3 linked regions of the Homo sapiens genome follow. The protein of the gene in region 1 purifies or fractionates together with the protein of each later gene. This does not show direct contact. Each region holds a gene or a part of one and is shown in the gene's direction. Other genes may lie near its edges. The genes, in order: PRDM15, MINK1 and CPNE2.

What was found.
Region 2: the proteins of PRDM15 (region 1) and MINK1 fractionate together in Homo sapiens (co-fractionation; one large-scale study listed by BioGRID). This does not show direct contact.
Region 3: the proteins of PRDM15 (region 1) and CPNE2 fractionate together in Homo sapiens (co-fractionation; one large-scale study listed by BioGRID). This does not show direct contact.

Annotation. Positions count from the first base shown.
Region 1 is NC_000021.9:41,799,260-41,802,981, reverse strand, and holds part of PRDM15 (PR domain zinc finger protein 15), read left to right. Parts: intron 1-60; coding exon 61-270; intron 271-1,259; coding exon 1,260-1,742; 3' UTR 1,743-3,722. UniProt on the Homo sapiens protein: Sequence-specific DNA-binding transcriptional regulator. Plays a role as a molecular node in a transcriptional network regulating embryonic development and cell fate decision.
Region 2 is NC_000017.11:4,878,318-4,882,039, forward strand, and holds part of MINK1 (misshapen-like kinase 1), read left to right. Parts: coding exon 1-65; intron 66-2,666; coding exon 2,667-2,723; intron 2,724-2,796; exon of another isoform or gene 2,797-2,814; coding exon 2,815-2,940; intron 2,941-3,722. UniProt on the Homo sapiens protein: Serine/threonine kinase which acts as a negative regulator of Ras-related Rap2-mediated signal transduction to control neuronal structure and AMPA receptor trafficking.
Region 3 is NC_000016.10:57,120,083-57,123,582, forward strand, and holds part of CPNE2 (copine-2), read left to right. Parts: intron 1-1,010; coding exon 1,011-1,109; intron 1,110-1,591; coding exon 1,592-1,678; intron 1,679-3,331; coding exon 3,332-3,391; intron 3,392-3,500.

The DNA of each region.
Region 1 (3,722 bases):
TGGCCGCTGCCTGACGTGACCGACTAACCTGGTTCTCGGCTGAAACCGATTTTTCTGCAGCCTGAGCTGACTCTGGAGCAGGAGGATTTGGCCGAAGGGAAGCACGGGAAAGCTGCCAAGCGAAGTCACAAGAGAAAGCAGAAGCCAGAAGAGGAGGCGGGTGCTCCGGTGCCCGAGGACGCCACCTTCAGCGAATACTCAGAGAAAGAGACGGAGTTCACAGGCAGTGTAGGCGACGAGACCAATTCCGCAGTACAGAGCATTCAGCAGGTCAGTTTGCTGCTTTATGTTCTGATTAGGTGCCGGTCACTTTCCCTAAGCATGAGAGCCTTACGTGTGTGTGACTCCATCTCTTTTTACTATACACAGTGTACATGTGGACTTCATGTGGTTGAAGGCAGCAGACATTCTGTTTTTCACTTAAGCATGTTTCATGTAAGCATTTCTGAGTTCTGACCTACAAATCATGCTTGTCATTGTTAGTAGCAACATATATTCTAGCATGTTGAAGAGAGATATCCCTGCCCGGGTGGCAATTAGGTAGGCTGTTTGCAGTTTGGGGAGGTCACGGGTGGCCTACCCAAGTGCCCTTATGGTGAAAGCTCAGCCCTGTGCATTTGCTGACTAGCCGGAGAGCAAGGATCCCTCAGTCTGGAAGGTGAAGACAATCCCACAATCCCACTTTCTCGAGTGGAACCTTCTGTCTTGCTCAGCCTTCGTCACTTTTGCTTTTGAAGCCTCTGAGTGTTTGATCAGTCTGTGTCTAATACTGCACTTCTCTCTCTTGTTTTGGGGGATGGTAATCTTGACTGCAAAAGTTCCTCATTTATTTGGCCTTTCATCCCTCTCCATGAAAGAGAATGCTTTCTCTTATTAGCGATTGGTACTGCAAATACCTTTATTGCTCTTTGTAGCTTTGTGGTGGGATTTTCATTTACCAACAGCAGGGCACTTCAGAGGAATGGATAGAAAAGGAAGCATCTGTTTTCCGTCTTTTTCGTGCTTACTTTTTTCTATTTTTTTCTAGCCAGTGAAATTAATTTGTTTCTTAGTTCCTTCTCATTGCTTTCATGATTGTGTCTGTTTCTTGTTTTTGTTTCTCGCTGGAATTTTTCCAGAACAAAATTAACTCGGTTTCCTCTTTCACCAAAGAATGTCGTGCTTCTTTGGTGTGGTAACACAGAGCGCATCCTGGGGAGGTCCTTGCGTTCCCCATTTTGCAAAAATGAACGGATTTTTGTTGTGTGTGAATCTTCCAGGTAGTGGTGACCCTGGGTGACCCAAATGTGACCACACCATCGAGCTCAGTCGGCTTAACCAACATCACCGTGACCCCCATCACCACTGCGGCCGCGACTCAGTTTACCAATCTCCAGCCGGTGGCCGTGGGGCACCTTACCACCCCTGAACGCCAGTTACAGCTGGACAACTCAATCCTGACCGTGACCTTTGATACCGTCAGCGGCTCTGCCATGTTGCACAACCGCCAAAATGACGTCCAGATCCACCCCCAGCCGGAAGCCTCGAACCCACAGTCTGTGGCCCATTTCATCAACCTGACGACCCTGGTCAACTCCATCACGCCCCTGGGGAGCCAGCTTAGTGACCAGCACCCGCTCACGTGGCGGGCAGTGCCCCAGACTGACGTCTTGCCACCCTCGCAGCCGCAGGCACCCCCACAGCAGGCGGCCCAGCCCCAGGTGCAGGCGGAGCAGCAGCAGCAGCAGATGTACAGCTACTGAGCTGCGTTCCGGGAGACTCGGGGCAAGAACTGCAGAGGGATGTTTGGGATTTGTTTAGATGTGTTTGCTGGATACCAAACAAACAAAAAGTCATACATTGCAATGTAAGGTTGACTTAGCTTTGCAGAGTATCTCCAGATCCCCCGCCAGCAACCATTACGGTCTGTCAGCTTAACTCTAGAAGGGACCTCTGGCAGGCCAGAGTTTTAAACTGGATGGGGCTCCACACCATGCCTTACCAAGGCAGTAAGTCCTGGGCCGGGGCCGCATCTGCCTCCCCTTACAGAACCAGTGTTCGCCCGACACAGGGTTCGGGAAAGTGAAGCTGAGAGAGAAGCAGGATTTTAAGAGGCAGGAGATAAGTTATTAGGAACACAAATGGTTCATTTTCTTTTTTCTTTTAGAGCTCGGTTCCTATGAGAACACAGACAGTATTCACAGGTGGCAGCAGGCAGCAGGGAACATTTTCTCCTCACTTCTGGATTTTTTTGCAAGCGAGCACATAGAAGTTAAAGTAACGTGTATTCTCTTTGAACTAGGAGTGGAGTCGGTTCTTATACAACTATGGGCTGAAACCATGAGGCGTGCTGAGCCGCACCTGATCCTGCAACCTTCGAGGTCATCACGGTCATCATGTGCAAGGGGTCACGTGAGGTCACTGACTCCAGCTCAAAACGCATCTTAGTAATATCCATGAATCGATTTCCAATAGAGTTTTTTTCCTTTTTTTTTTTTAACTTTATTTCAAACATACATTATGTGTTCAAGACTGTTATGGCCAATATTGTGTTTTAGTTTTATGTTAACATGATAAAGTCATGTGCACTGTAGGACCATCTGTCCCTGTCCACCCTTCACAGCTGCCCAGATGCAGAGGGTCGCGCGGCTGTGTGTGAGGAGTGAGCCTCCCTGCTGCCCCCAGGGGCTCCTCCGGGTTGTCTCAGGATTCTCTGCAATCCAAATGTATCCATTCTGGCTGAAGCCCAGCCAGAATCCCGAGTGGAAGAAACGGGGGAAAAGTCATATTTTCCTTCTGTTTAAACTTCAATTCCAAAGGTTGGTGTATTTCATGACCAGTTTTCTATAAAAATATTGAATGAGTTTGGCTCTTTACAATGGAAAAGTGTAGGTATTTCTGAAACACAGAGAAAATGCTATTTCCTGCCAGGTGGTAATGAAAGCAGAGAGGTTAGTTCACTAATAGAAGCATTAATTGCCCCTAAAACTGAATGTGCGGTGAACAGCCAGGTCTGCGTGTGCGGGGACACGTGCTGTCACGTCTGTGTACCAGTTTCGGGGGCAGGGGCCAGGGTTGGGGGAGGCACCCAGCCCTCCTGCTGCCCACGACAAGAAACACTGAGAGGTGTGGGGAGAAGTTTGCTCTTAACTTTCCTGGTACTCTGTTTGTGGCCACAGTGAGAGGACAAACCTGCCTTAAGGTGTCCTGCTTTGCCAGTTATCCCAGATCCTGCACTCACTGGGAGTCCATCTTGAGGAAACACTGGCATGGCTGAGTAATTGATCAGGAGCAGTCCTGATGTTGCCAGCAGAACAAAGGATGATTGTGTTTTTCAAAACGCAACTTTCTCAGCACTTCACTCCAAACAGCAGACTTTTGAGGACAGGGCTGGAATTTGTTTTGTGCAATATATGCCTTCATGAACTAAGGAATGTTCATCCCCAGGCAGCATGCAGGAGGGTCTGTGGGGCTCACCTCCTCACCTTACCCACCATCACTCGCGCCTAGCTCTCACCTCTCAGTTGAATGAATAGTGGGAGATCATTTGACTTTTAATTTATGAGAATTATTTTATGTTATTTATGTATATAATTAACTGTTTTATACATAGTAGTCTCATCAAATGAATTCGGGCTTGGGGTGATATTGTCTCCATTCTCCAGATACAAGTGCTCCAGGCATCCATGGAATCAGCAGGAGACCAGGGCTCCTAAGATATATTTTTAAAAATCAGTATCGAT
Region 2 (3,722 bases), on another chromosome or scaffold:
ACCCTGCTGGGATCTTTGAGCTTGTGGAGGTGGTCGGCAATGGAACCTACGGACAGGTGTACAAGGTGAGACGAATGGTGTGGAAGTATGACCTCCACATCTGCAGGGCAGTCTTGGGAGGAGTGGAAGGAAGTAGATTCCTGGTCTGCAGGTCTGAAGGGGGCTATGGGAGATGCTAGAGTCTAGGGCCCTGGAAAGGTAGAGTGGGGGAGAGGAAAGAGCACCCAGAAGGAGGTACTGTTGATGCCTCTCTCTACCTGAGTGCAGAGCCAGTCCCGGACATGGTGGGAACAGGCCAGCAGCCAGGCAGGGTGGCCTGCAGCAGTGAGAGCAGGTGGAAGGGCATACGGCCTTGTGTGTCAGAACTCTCCTGGGATTCAGAGAGAGCTAAGGCCAGAGATGTGGGTTTGGCCTCTCCCCAGACCACAAAGAGACCCAGGACTTTGAGGTAGTGGGACCTAATGGGTGGCCTTCTGCAGAGGGGATGTGGCCTCTGCTCCCACAGCTGGCCTGCTGGGGCCAGAGCTCAGGCTTTTGGCTTTTGAGCTGCCTCTGTCCCTGACAGAAGTGGCAGGTTCTCAGCCACTGATGGTAGCTTTTAGGTTGGCCAGCCCAGCCCTCTCGTGTGGCCTGACCACACTGCTCACACTTGGATGGGGGGAGCCACTCCAGCGGGGAGTAAGGTGGCCTGACCACTGCTCACACTTGGATTGTGGGAGCCGCTGCAGCAGGGAGTGAGGTGGCCTGACCACTGCTCACACTTGGATTGTGGGAGCCGCTGCAGCAGGGAGTGAGGTGGCCTGACCACTGCTGACACTTGGATTGGGAGGAGCCGCTGCAGCAGGGAGTGAGGTGGCCTGACCACTGCTGACACTTGGATTGTGGGAGCCGCTGCAGCAGGGAGTGAGGTGGCCTGACCACTGCTCACACTTGGATGGGGGGAGCTGCTCCAGCAGGGAGGGAGGATGCTCAGGGTGAATGCTGCCTCTGACTGGAGCCCCCTGGGGCCCGTGGCTTTTTCATCTCCAGACAGAGTGCTTGATACTGTCACAAGTCTCTTCTACATCTCTAGCCCCGTGTTTCCTGTGTCGCTGAGACCACCTGCCTTTCTCTTACACTCCTTCTCTTGCAAACTTTGGGGAAACAGGCACCCCACCCGCAATCTCTTGCCTTGTTGTTGCCATGGGAATAGTGGTGCCATGTGCTCCTGCGTCTCTGGGCTTGGGGTCTTGAATGGCTGAGGATAAAAATTACCCATGGGCTGGCAAAGCCAGTCCATCCCCATGAGGGGCCACCTTCCTCCATCCTGCTCGTCCCCAGGAAGCCTTTGGGCATTCCTCTCCAAGCCTTAGATGCTCCCACTGGGAATTTCAGAAGGATGTTGGGGGAGGAGGGCAATGGCTGGGGACACACTCAAGAAGAGGAAGTTTCTTCCCACTAGGGCTGGTGACAGGAGCATTAGCACATGTCGGCGGGCCCCTCTGTGTTTCTCTGAGTTCCCTAAAATCTCAGCTCTGTCTCTGTTCTTTCCCTATCGACAAGAATAAAAAGCTTTGTGGGTGAAGTTGATTCTGGGAGAGGCCTCCTGTCCAGAGTTGGTGAGTCAGGAAAGCACTGCAGCATTTTCTCTTGCTTAGGAGAAGAGGGTGAGGCAAAGCCCCTCCCTCCCTAGCCTCCTTCTCCTACTGCCTCCATCCTCCGTTAGGGTGGAGAAGTATCTTTCACGCCCTGCTCTAACTTTCAGACTGTAGAAAGTCCAAGCCAGAGAGGCTGGAACAGAACATAAATGTTTCTCCCTCATCTGTCTTGAGTTTTTATGGGAGGAGACCCTTCGCCTTTATTGAGCCTGTAACTTGGAAGTCCACTGTAGGTGGTTTTTCTGTTGGCCATGATGGCTCAGGAGCGCTCTCTGTCCACTCCCATGAGCAGCACATTCACTGAGGTGTGTAGCCACAATGAGGGGTACTTGCTTTTTTTCTTTTCTTTTTTTTTTTTTTTGAGACGGAGTCTTGCTCTGTCCCCCAGGTGGGAGTGCAGTGGCACAGTCTCGGCTTGCCTCCCAGGTTCAGGCAATTCTCGTGCCTCAGCCTCCTGAGTAGCTGGGATTATAGGCGCCCACCATGACACCCAGCTAATTTTTTGTATTTTTAGTGGAGATGGGGTTTCTCCATGTTGGCCAGGCTGGTCTCGAACTCCTGGTCTCAAGTGATCCGCCTGCCTCGGCCTCCCAAAGTGTTGGGATTACAGGCATGAGCCACAGCGCCCGGCTGAGGGGCACTTTGTAAGATAGAAAACAGTCGGGCCGGGCGCGGTGGCTCATGCCTGTCATCCCAGCACTTTGGGAGGCCGAGGCAGGCGGATCACGAGGTCAGGAGATCGAGACCATCCTGGCTAACACGGTGAAACCCCATCTCTACTAAAAATACAAAAAAATTAGCCGGGCGAGGTGGTGGATGCCTGTAGTCCCAGCTATCCGGGAGGCTGAGGCAGGAGAATGGCGTGAACCCGGGAGGTGGAGCAGGCAGTGAGCCGAGATCGCGCCACTGCACTCTAGTCTGGGCGACAGAGCGAGACCCTGTCTCAAAAAAAAAAGCTGTGTCTCCTAGAGTCAAGCCCTCTCTACGCTCCACCCTCTGAGCATAGACTCAGATCCCTCTGTCCCGCAGGGTCGGCATGTCAAGACGGGGCAGCTGGCTGCCATCAAGGTCATGGATGTCACGGAGGTAGGGAGTGGAGCTGGGCAGTGGGAGGGTCGGACCAGCGAGAAGGGAGTGTTGGGGGAGTCTCAGGGCTCAGCTCCTCCCATCTGCTTAGGACGAGGAGGAAGAGATCAAACAGGAGATCAACATGCTGAAAAAGTACTCTCACCACCGCAACATCGCCACCTACTACGGAGCCTTCATCAAGAAGAGCCCCCCGGGAAACGATGACCAGCTCTGGGTGAGAAACGCCCCCCTGCCCGCCTTCCCTCCCCGCAATCCCTGTCTCCGGGCTGTTCACTAGGACTCAGTATCAGTGCCCAGCATCTCTCCTTGCCAGCTACCCTCCCTCCGGTCTACCCAGCCTCCCCTGTCCCTGGACCCAGAGGGGCCTCCTGCCTCATGGATGGCCCCGCACTCCAGCCCCCATGAACTGCAGCATCTCATCCTTTGAGTGTTTTGTGGGGAGGGGTCCTGGCGTTTGCCCCAACCCTTCCCCTAACCAGTGTCTCACACTGTGCGATCGGCTCTTAATAAATAAATATAATCCTGGCAAAGGGGAGAGAGACCGTGGGGAGGCCGTCCATCCATTTTCCTGCCTTTGAGCACAGCTCCTGGGAAAGCAACAGAACCAAAATATTTGTGGGAGATAACAGGGCCCAGACCCCTCCCAGAACCCCAGATGCTACAGAGCACCCAGCCCTTCTGGGTCATCATTCAAAACAGAGCCTGCTGCAGAGCTTGGGGCCTCCCCCAAATTCCTCCTGCCTGGCCCAGAACATTCCTAAGAGTCATTCCCCTCCCTAGCCTGGGCACTGGTGCTGACATGTTCCCCCAGCCTCACCCTTTGTGGTACTGAGCCCAGTCCCTGAGGATGGAGCAGCAGGGAGTGTGGCAATGGCTGTCGGGAGTTTTGGCGCTGACGCCAGGTCTCCCCTCCCAACAGCCATTCAGAGAAGCACTTACTAAGCACTTCTGTATACTCTGTATAGATGAGCATGAGCCATGGTCCTGGCCTCCAAG
Region 3 (3,500 bases), on another chromosome or scaffold:
GCCAACATGGGAAAACCCCATCTCTACTAAAAATACAAAAATTAGCCGAGCATGGCGGTGCACGCCTGTAGTCCCAGCTACTCAGGAGCCTGAGGCAGGAGAATCACTTGAATGTGGGAGGCGGAGGTTGCAGAGCCCAGATTGAGCCACTGCACTCCAGCATGGGTAACAGAGCAAGATTCTGTCTCAAAAAAAAAAAAAAAAGTTATAGGCCGGGCGCGGTGGCTCATGCCTGTAATCCCAGCACTTTGGGAGGCCAAGGTGGGTGGATCACGATGTCAGGAGATTGAGACCACCCTGGCCTCTCACGTGAGGCCTCTCACCCACCCTCTCACGGTCTTTAGTAGAGACCGTCTCAAAAAAAAAAAAAAATTATAAAATAAAATCAAATAAATAAAAAATAAAAGCTCTTGGTCCCCAGGGGCTGGGTCTGAGAGCAGATGGGACTGGGGAGACAGCTAGGTCAGGACAGAGATTCCCAAGTAGGATACCAGGAATCTTAGGTTCTAGTACTGGGTCTGCTACTGCTGCTGTGAGACTTTGGGCAGGTACATCTCTTTCAGGGCCTCAGTTTACCCATCAGTGGGATGGGAACAATAATCCCTGCCTTCCTCCTAGGAGGGCCATAGCAGCTCAGACAGCATATAAAGCTGTGATTTCTGTGCTCATCTCAGAAAAAAATATGTCTAGAGAGGGCCCCAGGCCATAAGCTGGGTGGGTCACAACCCGAGGTGGAGGGGGAGCCATTTGCCAGGTGTATAAGGAGTGGAGTTGCCTGCACTAGAGGGTACAGCCTCCATCAGTGGGGCAGACACACTTTCTCCTTTTCCCAGCAATCACAGAAGTCTTCCTGCAGGAGGCAGTTCAGGAGCTATCCAGGCCAGCTAGGCAGATGCTGAGGAGAGGCACTACCCAAACAGAAGACAGAGGGTTTGCTTGGGGAGTTGAGAGGGGCTGGAGAGCACCTCTTGGGGGACAGCTCTGGGGTGACCGTGCTGAACCCACCCCAGGTCATGTGCTACGACTATGACAATGACGGGGGCCATGACTTCATCGGCGAGTTCCAGACCTCAGTGTCACAGATGTGTGAGGCTCGAGACAGCGTCCCGGTGAGATGGGCACGTGTACTGTAACCCCAAGACCTCAGCAGGGCTGGGGGAAGGGGCACCGGGTCTTGGGTCAGGCAGCCTGGGGCTGAGATCCCCCTTCTGGCTGCATGACCTTGAGCAAGGCATTCAATCTAAGACTCAGTTTCTCCATCTGTCAATGGGGGCAGAGGATTTGGGTGGGGATTGAATGAGATGATGCAGGCGAAGTGCCCAGCATATAGTGAGCAGTCAGGAGCTATCCATTTAAGTCATTCCGTGATGTTGGGCCCTCAGCTGGACAGTTTGGGGGTGCGTTATCTGGGGAGGAGGGAGGCAGATGCTGATCCTGCTACCATTTTTGGGTGTGGACATCCTGGGAGGCTCCCTGGAGGAAGCATGCTGCCCCCATTGTCAAGCCTGTGGAAGGGATTCTAGGGCCAAGGAGGAGGATCTGTTTCCAAAGAAGCCCCGAGGTGAGTGTCTCTTTCTTTTGCGTTGCCCAGCTGGAGTTCGAGTGCATCAACCCCAAGAAGCAGAGGAAGAAGAAGAACTATAAAAACTCGGGCATCATCATCCTGCGATCCTGCAAGGTGAACCAGCGTGGGCAAGCACGAGCCAGGGGCCAGGTTTCAGGCCACACAGAAGGGACAGACAGAGCACTGGATCTGGAGCCAGCGAGGCCTGTGTTCAAATCCCGGCTCTGCCACATCCTGGCCCTATGGCCTTCTGAGCTTCACCTCACCAGGCCTCAGTCTCCTCATCTGTGGAATGGAGATATTAACGAGGCAGAGCATGTCCAGGGTTACTCTTCTCTCACATTCCTGTGTGGAGGCCAGGGAAGGCACGAGCTGACCTTCCAGGGCCTGTCCTGGTGGGAGAATTGTCATTGCGAGTTGCTGCCGCCCACGGTGGGCATGCAAGGGGCAGAGGACATTGGGTGGGGACACCCTGTCCTCTCTGGCATCAGCGTCACTGTGACTCCCATGGTACAGCCGGGGCCACTGAGGCCCAGAAAGGCAATGAAGTTCATGTCAGCAGTGGCCAGGCTGTGGGTGGGGGCCAGAAGACCTGGTGGGCAAATAACTGCTGGATCTGGCAGAACATTAAGGAAGGCAGCCTGGGGCAGGAGAGCAAGAGACCTGGGCTCAGGGCCTGACAGCTCAGGAGTCTGGCCGCTGCTCTCCACCAGCAGGTGGATCCCAGACTCCCACCTTATTTGGAGCCTCGTCTGGCTAGGGTTTACACGAACATTCAGTGGTGTCACGACAAAAAAGCACTCCGTTAAAGGTCAAGATGTCAGGTTGCAGCCTTGTGATGGATGGTCCTTGTTTCTGAAGTTTCCATCATTCACATCACTTTTCACAATTTCTGGCACCTGCCTTACTTATTTTTTTGAATCAGTCTTTCTTCCCTGTATTATTGTTTTTTGTTTTTGTTTTTGAGACAGAGTCTCACTGTGTTGCCCAGGCTGGAGTGCAGTGGCGTGATCTCAGCTCACTGCAACCTCCGCCTTCCAGGTTCAAGGGATTCTCCTGCCTCAGCCTCCCAAATAGCTGGGATTACAGGTGCATGCCACTACGCCTGGCTAATTTTTGTGTTTTTAGTAGAGATGGGGTTTCATTATGTCGACCAGGCTGGTCTTGAACTCCTGACCTCAAGTGATTTGCCTGCCTTGGCCTCCCAAACTGCTAGGATTACAGGAATGAGCCACTATACCTGGCCTGTTTCTTTTCTCTTTTTTTTTTTTTTTAACTTAAATACATTTATTTAGAAAGAGATTATTAGAACTCTACCAAAATTAAAAGATCTGCCTTCTTTGCCAAAAAGAGACAAAGACCATCAAAACAACTTCTAGAGGAAGGCCTTGAGCTGGAGGCCTGCTCTTTCTCTTTGTTAAAAAGGTAGATTAATAAGGGCCAGGAGAAGGTAAGTACCTAACAGTGACAAATTGAGACACTCTGTGTCAGGTAACTGACACTGGGCCCTGGCACCCTGCCTGGAACCAGCATGTGTCTGTGTATCTGTGGGGTGTGGGGGTCTCTGTGAGTCCCCCACCCATTAGGAACCATTGCACTGAAGGCTTTGTTATAGAGAGATTTGGGTTTTGTTGTAATTAGATCAGGCCCATCAGCTTTTTTTGACCTCCTTGTCCCTACTGAGGTTGCAGGACATAGAGCAACAACTCCCCCATGGGGAGTGTGACCAAGTCAAGGGGACCCACTGACTCATCCGCTTTCTTCCAGATAAACCGAGACTACTCCTTCCTTGACTACATCCTGGGAGGCTGCCAGCTCATGTTCACCGTAAGGCTCTCCCCGCTGGCTCCCTCTGCACCCCCATCCCAGTGAGGGTCCTCCCTGAAGACTTGGGCCACTAGTGCAGCCAGAGGGACTTAGGGTAGACTTCAGGAAG